3 linked regions of the Homo sapiens genome follow. The protein of the gene in region 1 purifies or fractionates together with the protein of each later gene. This does not show direct contact. Each region holds a gene or a part of one and is shown on either strand. Other genes may lie near its edges.

Evidence for each region.
Region 2: the proteins of ARSI (region 1) and AHCYL2 purify together in Homo sapiens (affinity purification with mass spectrometry; 2 studies listed by BioGRID and IntAct, with this or other methods). This does not show direct contact.
Region 3: the proteins of ARSI (region 1) and FBXO21 purify together in Homo sapiens (affinity purification with mass spectrometry; one large-scale study listed by BioGRID and IntAct). This does not show direct contact.

Annotation. Positions count from the first base shown.
Region 1 is NC_000005.10:150,300,002-150,304,229, reverse strand, and holds the start of ARSI (arylsulfatase I precursor), read left to right. Parts: upstream 1-1,324; 5' UTR 1,325-1,856; coding exon 1,857-2,167; intron 2,168-4,228. UniProt on the Homo sapiens protein: Displays arylsulfatase activity at neutral pH, when co-expressed with SUMF1; arylsulfatase activity is measured in the secretion medium of retinal cell line, but no activity is recorded when measured in cell extracts. Lacks arylsulfatase activity.
Region 2 is NC_000007.14:129,392,413-129,396,060, forward strand, and holds part of AHCYL2 (adenosylhomocysteinase 3), read left to right. Parts: intron 1-3,648. UniProt on the Homo sapiens protein: May regulate the electrogenic sodium/bicarbonate cotransporter SLC4A4 activity and Mg(2+)-sensitivity. On the contrary of its homolog AHCYL1, does not regulate ITPR1 sensitivity to inositol 1,4,5-trisphosphate.
Region 3 is NC_000012.12:117,152,438-117,156,085, forward strand, and holds part of FBXO21 (F-box only protein 21), read right to left. Parts: intron 3,512-3,648; coding exon 3,354-3,511; intron 1-3,353. UniProt on the Homo sapiens protein: Substrate-recognition component of the SCF (SKP1-CUL1-F-box protein)-type E3 ubiquitin ligase complex.

The sequences.
Region 1 (4,228 bases):
GCTAGGAGAGAAGATGCACCTGGGCAGTCTTTGCTTCCCAAAGTCCCCAAACACTGGCCCTTCAAGAAGCTGGTTGGGGGGTGGGGGGAGCAGGAAAGAGGGTCCATGGTAACATAACACTGGGAAATACAGCCTAACCAGCCCCTCCTGCAGATCAGCAGTGTGCATGTTAAACATTTGAAATCCTAGAAGTAAAGAAGCCTAACTGGTTTTGTTTAGCCCAGTTTTTCCATTTAAAAATGTAGCCTAGTAAAATTTTGCAAAACAATGATGCAGAGCAGAGCTTGCAAACCGGCACCGATGGTCTGATATATTCCTGGGAGAGGTCTGATTTGGCCTACAAAGTGCTTAAATTTTGCTTTCAATTAGTCACTAACATTTCACAATTGGAATAGTTCTCCTAATAGATAAAGAGGGTATTCCTCTTGAAAAATCAGAAGATCTGGAAACACTGGTCCGTATTCTTGCCTGACTGTAGTCAGCTGGAAGCCAGGCTGTGGTTTTTAACTTGCTGCAGCCCCTGTGTCTCCTTAGGGCAAGACAACTATCTCTTGCTCTACTCATTTATGATGCTCATCGGGTTCCAGAGTCCCCCAAGCTTGCCTTCTCTGGTGTGGAGGTTTCCTTGGGTAGGCTGGCCTAGGTGACCATTGGGGCCCATTCATCCATTCACTCATGCAACATATACTGATTGAGCTTATACTGTGTGCTGCACCCTGTGGATACGAGATGGATAAAACAGCCCCTGCCCTCTGGATTCCAGCGCTGGCATTCTAAGATTCTAGTTGGGAACTGCAGAACGAGGAGGAGGGAGGGGTTGAGGAGAGGGGAGCTGGCAAGGCTACAACCAAGCTTCCTGACTTGCAGCCGCGGGGGCTTGCCAAAGTGCTTGCCATTCTCCATCGCTTTCTCTACCGGCTCACCGAAGGGAGCCGCCACTCCAACAGCCACGGTGAGCCTTAGAGACATAGCCACTGACTTGTTCTGTGACTTAGACGCGTTGAGGCTCATCTCCGGGCCTCAGTTTCTCCATCTGTAGAATGACCCGGTTGGACTAGGAAATGATGGGCTTTCCTTCCAGGGCTGGCACTCAGAGAGGCTAAGACTCCATGATCGAGGAATGTCTGACCCAGCCATTCTGGAGCTGTTCCATCGAATTCCAAGCAGCCCCACTCCCTCCTTTCCCCATCCCGGTCAGGGGCGGGCGCTGGAGCCAGCAGGCCGAGAGGGCCGGGGCTTCCCGCCCGGGAGGTGGAGCCGCTGCTCTGCGTCCCGCCCCTCCACCTGGGGCTCGGCCCGGCCCGGCAGATGTTACAACTTTTTCGAATTCTCTCCCGCCGTGTCCCCTCGACCCGCCCAACTTGTGCCTCCCTCCCCTTCCCCTCTGGGGTCCTGCCCACCTCCCTGCAGGGAGCTGGGCTGTTTTAAGGACTCCGGGTGGGGCGAGAGGCCGGGAAAGCAGAGGAGAGAGAAATTAGGAGGCGGGAGAAATCCAGGGCAAGAAGGAAGAGGGGAGTCAGAGGATGGTAGAGAGCACTTTTTGGAAGCTGCCACGCCGCGTCTCAGGCTGGCCGGGCTGAGCTGGGGAAGAGGGAGCAAAGGCGGCGCAGGGCCTGCGCTTAGGCAGCGGGAGGCAGCTCGGCGCGGGCCTGACCTCCCCAGAGCGCCCCGCTGCGGCCGAGCAGATCCGGCCCAGCCGTCCGGCAGCCAGTCCCGGACCAGACACTGGACCGTCCCCGGGGGGCGCTGAACTCCCTCGCAGCATCCGAGCCGGCGGGCCGGTGGTGCGCCCTGGGCGCGCGAGGTGGTGAGGCCCCAGGAGCCCGGCGCGCCGGGACGCGCGGGCCGGCTTGGCGATGCACACCCTCACTGGCTTCTCCCTGGTCAGCCTGCTCAGCTTCGGCTACCTGTCCTGGGACTGGGCCAAGCCGAGCTTCGTGGCCGACGGGCCCGGGGAGGCTGGCGAGCAGCCCTCGGCCGCTCCGCCCCAGCCTCCCCACATCATCTTCATCCTCACGGACGACCAAGGCTACCACGACGTGGGCTACCATGGTTCAGATATCGAGACCCCTACGCTGGACAGGCTGGCGGCCAAGGGGGTCAAGTTGGAGAATTATTACATCCAGCCCATCTGCACGCCTTCGCGGAGCCAGCTCCTCACTGGCAGGTAGGCGTGGCTCAAGGCCCCGGGGCTGGGCATCTAAACCCCAAATCAACCCAGTTGATAGATTTCTCCTGCCAGTACCACCCCATGCTGGGATCTGGGAAATCTCCTGTTGGCTGTGTAATCATTAGTAAGTCCCTCGCCCTCTCTAGGCCTCAATTACCCTTCCTTTACACTGAATGGGCTTCATCATCTTTGAGGTCTTCTTGCTTTGATGTTCCAGGACACTCACATTCCACACAACGTGGAGACATCTGGTCATCCCTTTGTTAGAGGAACATGGCAGCCTCTGACATTTACTGCTGCTTCTATTTATGGACCCCGAGACCCTGAGCAAGTCATTTAATTTCTCTAAGCCTCAGTTTTCTTGTCCATAAAATGGAGCAAAGAACAGTTTTCATCTTGAAAAGGAGTGGCAAAGTTGGAATGAGTTGTGTGTAACCTGCTTGGCTGTCAATATATGGCAGCCTCTATGTCTCCTGAGGGATTCAGGTCCCCATACTGCTTGATGAATACATTGGGAGAAGACCAAGGAATTGATAGGTGGAAGAGAAAGACACATAGGATACCATGACCTGTGTAGCCTTAGGGTGGTTACTTCATTTCTCTGAGCCTCTGTTTTTTCATCTGCAAAATCCTCCCAAGTTGGCTGGGAGCCCCAAGTAGACATGCTGCTTCCTCCACAAGGAAATGTCCACAGGCGAGGCAGCAGGATTACAGGATTAAAAGAGCAGGGAAACAGGAGGTGGGGGTATGGAAGGCAAACTCTGGCCACTTAGGAGAAAATCCTTTGGCAGTGCTGAAGCTAATTCTCCTTGGATGGGGTCCAAGGCATGCTTTCTCCCAAGTTCCACCCAAGAGCCACTAATGTGATCTCAGGAACCAGAAGCCTTAGTCTCCCTGTTTCTTAGTCTCACTATTTCTTGGATGGGAGAAATTGAGGCAAGGACTCAGGGAGGGCCTAGTTTGGTGCCCGTGCCCAACTTCAGGGTCTGTGGGAGATAGGATTGAGAGGCCAGGTGTTTGGCGGGGGTCCCGGAGCTGGGCATCAAATGGCGTCCTTTGTTCCTTCGATCTGGCACCCAGCGTTTAGATCCAGGAATCAGAAGGAGAACAGAAGAAAGAAGGAGGGGTGTGGGGTGTGTATGGGTTGGGGTGGTGGTGCAGGTTAGTGGTGTAGTGGTGAAGACCAATGTTGACCTGCAGAAGAGGGTGGAGGAGTCTGCATTCCCAAGAGTTATACACAACTTAGCGTTTCTGTCCTAAGAGGTGACTTTTGGTTTAAGTAGCGGAATGAGCAGACAGCAGGAGGGCAGTGCTCCAGTCCCCTGATCTGCGAAGCTAACTGAAGGTGGCCGGCCAGTGCCTGCCCTCCCCCACCCTGCAGCTGGCTCCATCTCATTGATGCTTACAGCCCTCGTTAGTGTTTGTTAACACATCCAGTTGTGTTTTGTGACACTGGAGAGAGGCAAAGTTTCTCTTGTGACTCACTTGCAGGTGGGCTTTGGTGACTCTTAGCTGGCCCATCCGCTTTACAAGCCAGCGCTCCACAGCACCCCACCTCTATGAAGACCGGCCCAGTTGGGACTCAGGGCCCTAGGGTGCTTCTCATATCAAATCCAATAATTTATTAGCTTGATTGAGGCCTGGAGAGGCCGTTATCACCAAAAGATTTTGAGCATGACTTGAGTGGACCCAGGTTCAAAGCTTAGCTCCACTGCTTGTCAGCTCTCTGAACTTGGGTCATTGCTGCACTTTCGGGGGACTTGGTTTTATCATCTGTAGAATGGGGGTGGTAATAGACTTCCCTGTAGGTTTTTAAAATGAGAGTTAAATGAGATAATGTATGTGTATGGCACATAGTGTTAAAAATGGCAGTAGTAGCTAATTAGAGCTAACAACAATAACAGCTTTAAGATAAGGAAACCAAAACAGAAACTCACTCCTGTGCTCTGGTTAAAGATGTCAGGTATTCAGGGCTTGGATTAATTTGGATGCCTGGAGGTGAGAAAAAGGTGTGGGATTTTAACATACTTGTGAAGTTCCAGGCTTCTTATTTACTCT
Region 2 (3,648 bases), on another chromosome or scaffold:
CCCTCACATGGCCAAAGGGGCAAGCAAGCTTCCTCAGGCTTGTTTTATAAGTACACTAATCCCATTTGTGAGGGCAGAAATCTCATGTCTAATCACCTTCCAATCACTTCCATAATCACCTTTTAATACCATCGCCTAGGGGGTTAGTTTTTAACATATGACTCTGGGGGAGGAGAACATACATTCAGACCATAGCAATCCCCAAATACTTTAGTGTGTATTTTCTACAAAGAAGGACATTTTCCTGTACTAGCAGTATAACCATCAGAAGTAGAAAATTAACATTGATTCATTATTACCATCCAATCCTTAGATCCCACTGGAGTTTCGCTTGTTGTTCTGATAATATTTTTCTAACAAAAGAATCCAGTCCATGGTTATATGTCACATTTAGTTGTCATGTCTTTTTAATCTTCATTAGTACAGAACAGTTTCTCAGTCTTTCTTTGATTTTCATGACCTTGACACTTTTGAAGATTACAGATGAATTATTTTGTAGAATTTCCTCAATTTGGATTTTTCTGATGCTTCCTCATTATGAGATTCAGGCTATACATCTATGGTGGGAATTCAGGGAAGTGATATATCCTATCAGGTGACACATGATTTCAGTTTGTCCCAGAACTGATGATATTCACTTTAATCCCTTGATTGAGGTGGTGTCTCCCAGGATTTTCCTCTGTAAAAGTTTTTTTCCCAGTTTATAATTAATATGTTTTTTGGGCTGGGTGTGATGGCTCACGCCTGTAATCCCAGCACTTTGGGACGTCAAGGTTGGCAGATCACTTGAACCCAGGAGTTGAAGACTAGCCTAGGCAACATGGTAAAACCCCATCTCTACAAAAAAATACAAAAGTTAGCCAGGTGTGGTGGCATGTGCCTGTAGTTCCAGCTACTTGGGAGGCTGAGGTGGGAGGATTGATTGAGCCCGAAAGGTCGAGATTGCAGTGAGCAGTGAGCTGAGATTGCACTGCACTCCAGCCTGGGTGACAGAGTGAGACCCTGTCTCAAAAATAAATAAAAATAGAATTAATATGTTTATGTGAGATAGTACTATGAAACTGTAAATATCTCATTCTTTATCTTACTTTGATTTATTCATTATTTTTATTTGTATGGAATCATTGTTTCCTATTTTATTTAATAGGTTATAATCCATTACTATCATTACTTATTTACATGATCATCTTGTTCCCAGTTTGACCAGGGAGAGCCTCTTCAGTGTGGCTTCTGTGACTTCTTTTGTCTTTTGATATATCCCTTTCATTCTTTGAACATTTCCTTGCTTTTGGTACAAGATCACCTAAGCTCATCTTGAACATTCCATGCCCTACTCTTGGAACCAGCCATTTCTCCCAGAATGCCTAGCTCCTTTTAGTGGATCTGGGCACTAATGTGCTCTTTGCTTTTGAAATGTCATTGTTCCCAGATCCTCTTTTTTCCCTCTCCATACATGTAACTGGAGTTCCAGAAGGCAAAGAGGGAAAGAATCCATAGACTCCCATAGACCCCATAGATTTTGAGCACTCCGTTGTGATTTTTTTCTGCCAGTCTTCTTCTTTTTGTATTTCAGTTCAGTAATTTCTTTTTTTGTTGTTGTTTTGTTTTGTTGAGTAGGGTCTCACTGTGTCACCCAGGCTGGAGTGCAGTGGTACAATCATTGCAGGCTCATTGCAGCCTCAAACTCCTGGGCTCAAGCGATCCTCCTGCCCCAGCCTCCCAAGTAACTGGGACTACAGGCATATACCACTATGCCTGGCTAATTTTTTTTAATTTTTTGTAGAGAAGAGATCTTGCTGTGATGCCCAGGCTGGTCTCAAACTCCTGGCCTCAAGCGATCTCCTGCCTCAGCCTTTCAAAGCGCTAGGGTTACAGGCATGAGTCACTGTGCCTGGCTCAGTTCAGTAATTTTTATTGGTCTATCTTCAGGTTCACTGATTCTGTCCTTGGATGTGCCCGGTCTGATGATAAACCTGTTGAAGGAACTTTTAATCTGACTTTTTTTTTTTCCTGGCATTTGTATTTGACTTTTTTTTTTTTTTTTTTTTTTTTGAGACAGAGTTTTGCTCTTGTTGCCCAGGCTGGAGTGCAACGGTGCAATCTTGGCTCACCACAACCTCCACCTCCTGGGATCAAGCGATTCTCCTGCCTCAGCCTCCCGAATAACTGGGATTAAAGGCATGTGGCACCAAGCAGCTAATTTTGTATTTTTAGTAGAGATGGGGTTTCTCCATGTTGGTCAGGCTGGTCTCAAACTCCCGACCCCAGGTGATCTGCCCACCTTGGCCTCCCAGAGTGCTGGCCTTTACAGGCCTGAGCCACTGCACCCAGCCTGTATTTGACTTTTTATTGTTTCCATCTCTGCTGAAATTTTCTATCTATTCATAGATGTTGTCTATCTTTCTCAACTAGATCCTTTAACATAAACATATTAGTCCAGCCTGGGCAATATAGCAAGATCCTGTGTATAAAAAAATATAAATAAATAACATAAACATATTAATCATAGTTATTTTATATCTCCTGTCTGATCAAACATCTGGCTCATCTGAGAGCCTGCCTCTGTTGTTTACTTATTTCCTGACAGTGGGTTTTTTTTTTTACTTTTTGTATGTCCTGACATTTTTAATTGAGTGGTAGTATATTAGTTTTCGTTATAGTCATGAATTGGGCTGAATTTAGAGTTCATTGTATATCAACAAAGGCTTCAAATTCCTCCAGCAGTGGACTGCTATAACCTTGTGATTTGAGGTTACCAAAGGACATTCCTCAGTGCTTCTGCTTTACCCTCAGCCTTCAGCTACTTCTGCACATGTGTGCCACAGAAGTGTCCTCTTTTCAAGTACCTGCCTCATCTGCCGCACTAGACTGCTGCTCTTTGTTTCCTGGGGCTAAGCACACGGTGAGGGCAAGTGGGGTTCTTGGATCTCTGGTGCAGTCTCAGTCTTAGGCAGACCTCTGTGAGGGGCAGGGTTTTCTCAATATTCCTGCCTCTCCTATCTGTAGCAGCCAAACTTTGCCTTGAATCTGTGGTGGGTCTTGGGCAAGACATATTTTCCTGCCCTTCCTGGAGAGCTGGAGAGGTAGCAGATCCTTACTTTGTATCAGTGAACTGTCCTGGGCCCAAGAGGTTTTCCTGTGCCTCTCCCAGAGGCAGAGTTTTTGCTTCTGCCTTCCTCCAGACACAGTGGATCTTTGCCTAGTCCCTAATGGCAGGCCCAATTCCTGCTCTTCCTACAGCTTGAGGCTTTGGTTCCTATGAGAGAAGAGTGTAGGGAAGTGCCCAGGTTTCATGTCTGTTTCTGAGCACAGCCAATCAGCTCCCTGCCCCAGTCTTTGTTTTGAGCACTGGGTGGAAGCCTCTGGAAAACAGCCTGCATGTGAATGGGAAATCTACTTGTGTCTGGAGCTTCAAAAAATTCCACATTGACACACTTTCCCACACCCAGCCTTTCGTAATTGTTCAAAAGTTTAGCTGATATTTTCTTATTCTTATCTGTGGCAGCCATTTCTTCCCCCCATGCACTGCCAAAGGTGAAACAGTCTTCCCTCTCTCTTTAAAAGGATTTGTCACTCTTTGGAGGGCAGTTCACTTCTGTGCTTTATGACCTCAAATCTTTGATGGGCTCAAGAAAAGTTTGGCTTTGT
Region 3 (3,648 bases), on another chromosome or scaffold:
CCTGGGTGACAGAGCACCCTGTCTCAAAAAAAAAAAAAAATTTACAAGACAACCAGTCTGGATTCTTCAAAAAGTCAAAGTCATATGAAAAAGGGGGGAAAAAAAATGAAGAATGAGGAACTGTCTTTAATAAGAGAGACTAAAGAGAAAAAAAACAACCAAATGCAGTGAATGAATTCTGGTTGGATACTGATTTTAAGAAACAAGCCAAAAATAGGCATAAAGTTATTTTGTGACAATTGAGAAATTTGAAAACTATTAGATATTATAAAATAATTGTTACTAGGTGTGATAATGTAATTTGGTTATGCAGAGGAATCTCCTTATACTCAGACATAATTAGGTCATGTCTGCAATATTCTTTCAAATGGTGCAGGAAAACAGTAAAATCTCTATAGATAAAGCAAATATGGGAATCATTTACTGTTGAATTGACTAGAGGGTAAATGGGGGTATTTGATGTATTCTTTTAACTGTTCCACGTGCGAGCAAGAATGATGACTTCAAAGAAGATGAACGGAAGTGGGCTGGAGTATGTCAGGCGTGGGAACCGTGCTGGGGCTGTAAGGGGAAGGCCAGATCCCTAGGGCCTGGTAAAGCATTCTGCACTGCCTGCCGATGAGAAACTCCTGATGGTCAGTCAATTCAAGCAGCAAGTGGCCCGGTCCAGGGACACGCTAGGAAGATCCTCTTGCTGTTGCTAAGGAAAATGCCCGGTTGGGGACAGGCCGGGAGGCAGGTGCCAGTTAGGAAGTAGGCAAGCAGAGACCACCAGAATGGAAATGGGAGACACATGAGGAGACAGCAGTGGGTGTGTAGACAGATGTATCGCGAGGGCAAGGGGAGAAGAGCAAGACACGGCCCCCACGTGGTGTCACTAGTGAGATGGGGCAGGCAGGAGCAAGGGGGGTATGGGGGCACAATGAGTTCATGTTTTTTCTTTCTTTACAGAGATAATCGAGTTAAAACAATGGGTTCAGTGAGTCGGGGTAACAATGTTGGAGAGAAGACCCCTGAGAGCCCTCCAAGCACACATGCCCGGGGGCTGTTACAGAGGTGGGCACGGAGCCCAGAGAAGAGCCCAGAGAACACGGCTTTGGGAGTCACCAGCACATCCACAGACACCCCAAGGGGGAAGGAGATGAAGGCCTAGAGGAGAGTCCCCTGGAGAGGGAGGACCCTGAAGACAGCCACGTATCAGGCATGCTGGGGGAGATCTGCCCCTTGGCCCAGGACTCCGAGTCCCTCAGGAAGCGCTTGCTGACACAGCGCTGATGGAGCCGCCGGCAGAAGACGGGAACTCTCATAGTGTAGGAACAGCTTTGAAGTTCTACGTTTTAAATTCAAGAAGCCAATTTGCTAACATTACCCATCATTTAGTTCCATCTCAATTTAACAGATGGTAAAACCAACAAGCAGATATTAATTTTTTCAGTAATGACAATTTTATGACTAAACCTTACATTGCATGTTTACCTAGATATGATTAGAGATCAACTTCTGAAGTGAACATATCACAACCCCTAAAACCAAATACTTAAGACCAACCCTAAACAGTGAATAATGATGCCATGTGGTAAAGCCATAGACACTGGCCCACGGTGTTGTTGAAAAGAAAATGCTCATTTATTCTTGTGAACGCCATTTGTTGTAGGCTATCAAGCGTTTACCAGGTGACTTGTGCTGGCACCAGTGGCCCAGTGAATCAGTCAATAATGTCCAAATCATGTGTTGATTTTTAGAGATTGTTTATATTCGACACAGCTTCAAAAGTTAAATAACATTACCGTTGGTGCCTCCATCTGCCACAGGGAGCACAGAAACCCCTTACACCATCCCCATCACACTGAGACAGGGCAAGCGACCTGCAGTTTCAACAAACATTTATCTTGATGCTGCTGTTCCAGGGGATCCTTTCAGTTTCTGATTAACTGACAATAATCATTATTTTCCAGCCTTTTATTTTAAGATGAGGTCTCACTCTGTCACCCAGACTGGAGTGCAGCAACACAATCAGAGCACACTGTAGCCTTCACTTCCCAGGCTCAAGTGATCCTCCCAACCCAGCTTCCTGAATAGCTGGGACCACAGGTGTACACTACTCTGCCTGGCTAATTTTTAAATTTTTTTGTAGAGATGGGGTCTTGCTGTGTTGTAGCTGGGAACACAGGTGCACATGACTCTGCCTGGTTAATTTTTAAATTGCAGAGATGAGGTCTTGCTGTGTTGCCCAGGCTGGTCTCCAACTCCTGAGCTCAAGCAATCCTCCTGCCTCACCCTCTCGAAGTGCTGGGATTATAGGTGTGAGACACCTCACCTGGCAATCTCCAGCCTTTCAGAAAGTTCTGAGGTTTTTATACATCCCATATTTTGATTATTGGATTTATCAGAACATAATATTGAGTTAGGTCAAAACTCAGACATGAGCAGGTACAGCATGATGGATGAAGAGGAGGCTCTGTCAAGCTGCCTGGCTTCAAATCGTGTTCTCTAAGTTAAAATCTCAATGGCTTCCCTGTGCCTCAGTTTCCTCACCTAGAAAATGATGATGATGATGTTTCTCAAATGGAGTTAATATACATTAGAATGATGTCCGTCACAGAATGGCACTACATTAGCATTCACATTCATTTTTATTAATAAATGTGAATTATTAATTAATCAATGTGAATGCTTTGACAGACATACACTGAATTCATCCTATTAAGTAGAGGTGAAATTCAACAGGAACAAAGAGAAGGGAGACTCACACTGAAGGCATTCTTGTCTCTTACCAGCTTCCACAGGCTCTGTCAGTCTCCACCTCAGCCTTGCCCTGGGCTGGCACCTGCCGGGGCGGCAGTGGCCCAGACGCCTACCCAACCTTACTGTACACTTGCGGGCTCTCAGGTGCTCCCAGGGCCGGCGCAGTGGGCTGCAGTTCCCACAGGTGGCCACACGAGGGCATCTCCGGCGTCAGCCGGCAGCCACAGCCTTGGGAGGCCAGGGAGCACTAGGGGGCCCCCAGGTGTTCATCCGGTTCCCTTCTAGTCTGGGAGGAGCCGAGGGCAGGGTCCAGGAGGCAGGACTTACAGGAATTTGATTGGCATAGACAGTGGCCAATCAGATGTCCGGGCTGTGGGAGCGGAGGCCCTGGGGGAGGGCGGGTATGACTACTGACCCCTCGCCAGGGCGGCACCTGTGCAGACCCAGCCACGTTTAGCTGACTGTGGGCCCGAAGGAGGCCGGCCATGGGGCGTCGGCCGCCTCTGAAGGAACCGATGGCCCACGCCCACAGTACCTACCCGAGGGCTCAAACGTGCGCTGAAAACACGCCCGCGGGGCCACTGGCACAAGCGGAACCCGCCGCTTACCTTGGGCTGCGTATCGACAGGAGCCGTCCTCCACCAGCACGTTATAGAAAGGCTGGTGGTGGCCGTGCGGCAGGCTGTGGACGTTCATGTTCCGGATCCACTCGTGTCCCATCATGCAGGTGGGGTCCCAGCCGTAGATCACACAGTTATAGCCATACCTAGTTAACACAGGAGGAGCAGTCAGTCCCTGCAGACCCGGCCGCAACAACCTCCAGACAACCGCGTGGCTTCTCAGCTCACATCCTCAGTTACCTGCTTTACTCCACGGTGAATCATTTTTCAGGACACCCCTAAC